Linked DNA regions of Homo sapiens. The protein of the gene in region 1 interacts with the protein of each later gene in a pairwise test. Each region holds a gene or a part of one and is shown on either strand. Other genes may lie near its edges.

Region 1 (3,500 bases):
TCATTTACATAGCATGTACATTATATCGGGTATTATAAACAATCTAGAGATGATTTAAAGTACAGGATGATGTACACAGGTCATATGCAAACACTATGCCATTTTATGTAAGGGACTTGAGCATCCACAGACTCTGGTATCCTCGGGAGGTCTTGGAACCAATTCCCTGTGGATACCAAGGGCTGACTGTATCTCCATGATTCATTAGGAGAAAGGTCTCTTGGAACGAAGTAAAGGTCTGAATCATTGACTATGCCTAAATAAATACAGTTCCAAGTTCTAAGTACATAGCAGAGTTATAAAGTAGGCCTTATCAAACTGATTTTATGAATCAATTCCCATCACATGGAATTGTGATATTACCTGGTTATTTACAATAATTGTGCTAAAACATTTGAAAATAGAATGCCTTCTTAAATAAGCTAAATGGACAGCCTGTATTCTTTCACCAGCCTCCATTTGCATAACTTAATTCTCAGAATCAAGAAAACTGTGCGTCCCTACAGGGTTTGTTTTTGACTGATCGATACAGTGTCTTATGTCTGATCCTGTTTCTTTCTTCACTTTGGTTGCTAGGGAGATCATAATTAAATAAATGAGTGCCCTAACACTAGCACCTATACTGCAGTTTTGTGGTTCACAACCTTAATTTGAAGTCCTATAGCTGTGGATTCAAGTCCTGTTTCTATCACTTACTGCTTCTGTGACCTTGGACAAGTTCTGAGTCTCCTTTTCCTCACTTGAAAAAAGTAGGACAATAGTACTTACCTCTCCATGTTGGCGTGAGGATTAAATGTGAAAAACCATGTAAAATGCTTAGCATAGTGCCTGGCACAGAGCAAGGATTCAATACACAGGAGCCATTATTGTTATGTCAATAACTTCTTGTTTCAACTTACTGTTGCACCTTATTTTTCTTTTGTCCCAAATTGATGAATTTTAAAATTCCTAATTTCAGCTTAGAATCTATCAGAAACTCCTAATAGAATGCAATTTAAACAGATATTTTTATATATGAACACATTTTTGCATAAAATTATTTTATCAACAAAAGTGTTCATTTGAAGTTGTATATTATATTCAGAAATCATAAGCCATATAAAACTTTCATTACCATCCCTCAGGGCTGGGCTGGTGTTTAATTTTAGACATTTTAGAGTGAAAAGAATCCTAGAGATCACTTAGTCTAGTTGTTTTTCACCAAATTTTTTTTACAGTTGAGGGCCAGGAGCCTGGCCCAAAAATACTTTCTGTAAGTGCAAAATTGCTTTGAAGTCTCATGTTCTATCTTAAAAAGTCGTGGCATCCTGTTACATGATCTCCTTCTATTTGTCTTTAAAACACTGTGCTAAATCCCTTATAATACAGGGAAACTGATATTGTAGGGAGGATGCCAGGTGTCCTGCTTCCAGGAAGACTGGCCCATCACAGAGCATGCCAGCATGGGCAAAGTAGATCTACCTGAACTCCCTTTTTCACAAAACCAGCCACAAGGCCCAGAGAAATGTCATGACTCCTCAAGGTCCTCAACTCGTATGGCACCTTTTATCTTTCCCTTCAGCATTCAGTTCCATTCTAGACATCCAGAAAATGCTGTATTTGGATCATTTGAAAGAGTCCAGATCCTAGTACTGGCATGAAAAGGTGACACACCCGAGGGTGGGCCTGTACGTGTGTACATGCATGTACCTGTGTGTGCGCTCCTGTGAGCACGTATGGCCATGTAGGACGGATCTCAGGACAGGCAGGAAGAGGTGGTATACCCAAAGGTGGTTGTGTGTGTGTGTGTGTGTGTGTGTGTGTGTGTGTGTGTGTGTGTGTGTGTCTCGATATACAGGCATATGTGTTTTCTGAGTCTTCAGGTTTACTTCATTACTAGTTACATTTTGCATTCAACTTCAAGCTCTATTTCTGCTTGGTTAGACTTCTGAGCTAACCAAGTCAGCAGAGATCAGCCACTAGCTTAAAATCGCATACCCCTTTCCCATGCCAAGCTCAGTGTGAAGAAAACCCCAGCAGGGGAAAAAATAAAGAAATATATACAAAGTGGCAACTCTACTTCACTCCAGTTCACACCACCCATGAGGGAGCTCCTGCAAGGGCCACAAAGAGCTACACCCTCTGTGTAACCACAAATTTTCTTCTAGGAAGTTTCAGGGTATTACAGAAATTTAAAGTTAGCAATCATCTCTCATTTAAAAGGGGTAAGGTTGGCTAGTAATGTGGCTTATGTAGGCTCTCACACTGTTGGGAGCAGAGGAGGGATTTGAACTGATTGGTCAAACTCTCATTTATCTCTAGTTAACACTACAGAAGCTGTGAAAAGTGGAAAAACACATATCATTTCTAGCCGGTCCTGGTTCCTTAGACACAGAGGATGTGCCTATCTCAGACTTTTGCCCAAATTAGTACCAGGTGGTAGTGATGGCCACAAGACATATATCCTGTGTCCTATAAGTGAAATCTCTTCTATCAGAAAGATGGAGCTTCTTTTTCATACCCTATCTGTTGTGCTTGTGTATTCAGCTTCAGAAAAATTCTAAAGTGTTTCTGAAAACTACAAAGTTGGAGTACCTATAAAATGTGATCTGGGTTCATAACTCAACATGAACCTAGACCCAAGGAAGCTCAGAGGTCGTGGAGTCCCCTGACACAGCCCTGCAAGGAACCAAGCCCAGCACCCACCATTCAAAAAGTCTCGCTGTGTTTCTAAGACTTGATTGATGTCCTGCACCCAGGCCTGCTGGATGTCAGCGTTGGCGGCTTGCAGAACAACCCTCTCAGAAGTCTCTCTGTTCATGAGTGCAAACTTGCAGGGATCATTGTCCACATTCTCCTCCAGGACCAAGTAATTCATCTGGAAGAAAACGAGTTGATCCTTTTTACATTTAAAAGATTTTTTAAAAATCAGCAACATATTACTCTTCCTCAAAGTTTCTATTTCAGGACAAGCTTCCAAATTTTGCCCTGGATCTAGCAGGACAGTACTTAGGTTTTTGTCTCTGGGTGAGTGACACGATCCCAGGGAACCTGCAGGATCATGCCAGAGACTGGCTCAGCCTGTCACTTCAGCTCACAGATAATCACTGTCGTGCAGCCTCCATGACCGAATGTTATTCGGCTGAAAGATCTTCACGGTTCTGGATGTCACAACTCCAGGGCCTCGTCTTAGGGAAGCAGCTCCCAAGAACTGGGCTCTTCCTTGCCTCTTCTCATCACCATTGGGATCCTCACCTTGATGCTCCTTTTGAACATGTAGCCAGGGGTGAGGGATCCCTTCCTGAGCAGTTCACTGAAGATGACAATCTGCTCGAAGAGGAACACGCGCCTCTCTTTGGTCCGGGACTGCATGCCTGCATCCAGCTCGATCACATAGAATGTGTCCTGCTGCAGCAGCTTCCCCTGAGCAGTCAGAGTGCCCTGAAGGAAAGACGGGCTGGGGTGAAGTGAATGAAAAATGGGGAGCGAGCCACTGCCCTCTGGGTCCACAGAACCTCCCC
Region 2 (3,500 bases), about 61 Mb from region 1:
ACCCTTTATTCCCTGCGACCTAGAAAGAGTGAGGCCTGTGCTCACAGATGTACGTAATAAAAAGTTCTACAATGAGTGAATGGACAAAGGCTACAGGAGTCACAAATCTCTCCGCGTGGAAGGCACAGAGGACTTTCGACGGGATATTAGACAGATGAAGAAGTGAGGAGGGGCAGTGAGGATGGGAGACAGACAACAGAGAATGAGTAATGGGAATGAACAGCAGCAAATCCCCTGACGGTGAAGAGAACAGATAACGTTCTAAGTCTAAGACAGAAGAGACCTGGCAGCAACTTGGGAAACACTCAGGGTAGGGACATGCAGGCATGTTTAGCCCTACCAAGCTTAATAGATTCAGACCAACGTGAAGGCAAGGAAAAGGAAAAGAACTGACAAAACAATGAAAAAAAGTCAAGTCATCCTGTAAAAGGGCAGGCCTGGTGGATGCTGCATTTTCTGCCAGTTCTATGCTGATCTCATGACAAGCTGGGTCTCAAGACTTATTAATGCAATGACAGGCTTAGCCCAATGCCACGGAGAGTAATGACACCCTTAAAGAAGGACGACAAGGGGAGCATATATCATTTGAAAAGGAAGATGTGAGAAAAATGCAGACCCATTCAAAGTCACTCCACCTAGCAATAAAGGCACAGGAAGAATGCCAGTCAAGCTCCTTGAAGATTTTGAGTTGAAAAAAAACTTTTGGCAACCTCACTTCTGGGTAGTTATCCAAAATAACTGAAATCAGAATCTCAAAGAGCTATTAGAACTCCTATGTTCACTGAAGTATTATTTATAATAGACAAGATGTAGAAACAATATAAATGTCTGTCAACAGGTGACTGGATGAAGACAACATAGTATATACATACACTGGAATACTATTCAGCCCTTAAAAAGAAGGAAATTCTGCAATATGCTACAACAAGTATGAGGTAAGCTTGAAGACATTATACTAAGATAAATAACCCAGTCACATAATGACTAAACACCGCATGATTCCACTTATATGAGATCTATAATCAAACTCACAGAATCAACAACTAGAGTGGTGGCTGCCAGCGGCTGAAGGGAGAGCGAAATAAGGAGTTACTAATCAATGAGCATAAAGTTTCAGTTATAGCAAGATGAACAAGTTCTAGACATCTGCTGTATAATATTCTTTCACAGTCAACAATACTGTCTTGCACACTTAAAGGTGTGGTTCCCTGCCACGCTTTGTAAATGACTGAAAAAGAACATCTTGGGTTTGAAAAAAGCAAACCTCATTGCCCACAGGTACTGTATTACTGAGAAATCCATGTTACTGAGAGTCAGGTAGGCAGGAAGAGCGCAGAAGGAGAATGGCAAGTTGTGATCATGATGTGGACAGGGCTGAGGCATGCTTTCACACATTCTCTTAGGGACAGCTGAAACTGACATAATTCTACAGAACTCAGGTGGCTATCTTCATACACCACCACCACTACACCACTGTGTGTCCAATTAGTACCCTATACAAAAAAAAAGCAGTTTGTTTTATGAGAGTTTTTAACCTAGAAATCCAAGGATGGGCTTGGGGTGGGGGTGTCCATTAATCCAAGATAGAAAAATTCAGAATGTGTATGTGTATGCACTATTTTATTCTCGGAAGATGGACCGTGGTTTTTTTTTTTTAAAAATGAGATATTTAAAGGTACTCTTGACCAACCCTTTTCCCCAAAAAGGTTCTGAACCACTGTTGTAAGACAAAATCTATATACTAAAATTAAATTAGAAGCTTAAAGTAAGAACCACTTAAAAATTTCCCACTCCAGAAGACTGTAACATGCCTCCACTGGCTGGGGCATGGGACAGGGCCTGAAGTCCTTTATTCAAATACACTTTAATAAAATTTAAAGTAAAACACTAACAATTTTATTAATTTTTAGAAGAAAATGCTAACTTTTATCATTTTTACTTCCTCCCTCTAAGGTTTTAAAATTACATACTTCAAAGCAGTGACTCTGAATGCTTCTTGAACCTATCTGGGGGGTAGCTGGGGACACCCTCCAGAGAAATGCACATCAACATACAAGCTCATTTATGTAGAGGTGTTCACTGATGACCTGAAGCCACCCCACATCAATAACCCACACTTTTCAGCAAATATACCTTATTAGCATACTGGCATTTTAAAAGAAGGAAGACCCCAGAGCAAAAAGGAAGACCATTACATTTTCTTAGCTTGTATATAAATTATTAATATATTTTATCTAGTTTTTTTTTTCTCTTAAAAGAGATGGGTCTCGTAATGTTCTCCAGGCTGGACTCAAACTCCTAGGCTCAAGCAATCCTTCTGCCTCAGCCTCCCCACTAGCTGGGACTTACAGGCATGCCTGGCTTGCAGTATTTTTTTTTTAAACTAGAAAACAGGGATATTTCAAAATCACAGATTTTTTAAAAAGTGGTTCTTTAAAATTTAAGACCATGGGTGACACATTTTTTAAATGTTCATACACACGCAAGGGAAATTTCTGCACTTGCTTTAAGCCAGTATAATTTAAAGCACAGTCAAGGGTAGCCTATATGGAAATATTAAAAGTTTTTAAAAATAACAGACTGGGAGAGAACACTATTCCTGTGGATACAACACTGCTCATTAGAAACAAAACCTCTGTCAAGATTATAATTTATAACAACGCACTTCACATTTTGTCAATCTGAGGCTTTCTTCAACAGAACCAAGTTATTCCTTCACCTACACAATTCACAACAATCCACAGAGCATCTTCTCTGGGTTAGAGAGACTGTGGGAGTAGTGTGGTACATCCCAGTCACCCATGTTTATCAGGATGGTCGACTTGACTTTCAGGAGTCCACCTACCTTGCATGTCAAAGACCGGGTGCAGGGCTTCTTGGTGTCGAGATCAATAACCCCACAGTGGATGTCAGGATCAAACTCTCTTTCTGTCAAAAGAACACAGGCATTACATGTGGCCTGACAAACTCTCCTCCATGTATTTTTTAAGCAAGAAAATAGAAGAAATCAACAGTTAGATAAATTATAGCTGGAATAAAAGCCACATTATCAATAAAATAAAAAATATACAACGTGTGAGTGCTGCAACAAAGCAGCAACATCACTAAGACAGGGGGTGACTACTGCCATCAGATGGTAGAAAAGATATTGTTTAAGTCTGTATTACTTCCTTCAGAAATACACCACTAGAAAGCTACTTTTACATGACACACACACACACACACACACACACACACACACACTCATGCTCTTTAAAACCCAAGAGTGAAAAGAACAAACATATTAACTAAGGAACTTCCTCCTAAAGCTGAAGTTGACCAGTTTTAAAAATAGGAATTCTAGATTGCAGTTGATTTGCTCCCCACGAATGCCCATTTAATATATAGAGAAGCATTATGAAGAAAGAAAATTTGAAGTTACCTGATAATCTCTTATTTAAAAATTTCCTATTATTGGAATTGTCTTCAGGTTTCTTTTCCAGAGTGGGCGGTGCAGGAAG

What was found.
Region 2: the proteins of KALRN (region 1) and ATXN7 interact in a two-hybrid assay, tested with the Homo sapiens proteins (one study listed by BioGRID and IntAct).

What each region holds. Positions count from the first base shown.
Region 1 is NC_000003.12:124,666,369-124,669,868, reverse strand, and holds part of KALRN (kalirin), read right to left. Parts: intron 3,421-3,500; coding exon 3,235-3,420; intron 2,858-3,234; coding exon 2,686-2,857; intron 1-2,685. UniProt on the Homo sapiens protein: Promotes the exchange of GDP by GTP. Activates specific Rho GTPase family members, thereby inducing various signaling mechanisms that regulate neuronal shape, growth, and plasticity, through their effects on the actin cytoskeleton.
Region 2 is NC_000003.12:63,982,367-63,985,866, reverse strand, and holds part of ATXN7 (ataxin-7), read right to left. Parts: coding exon 3,422-3,500; intron 2,929-3,421; coding exon 2,846-2,928; intron 1-2,845. UniProt on the Homo sapiens protein: Acts as a component of the SAGA (aka STAGA) transcription coactivator-HAT complex. Mediates the interaction of SAGA complex with the CRX and is involved in CRX-dependent gene activation.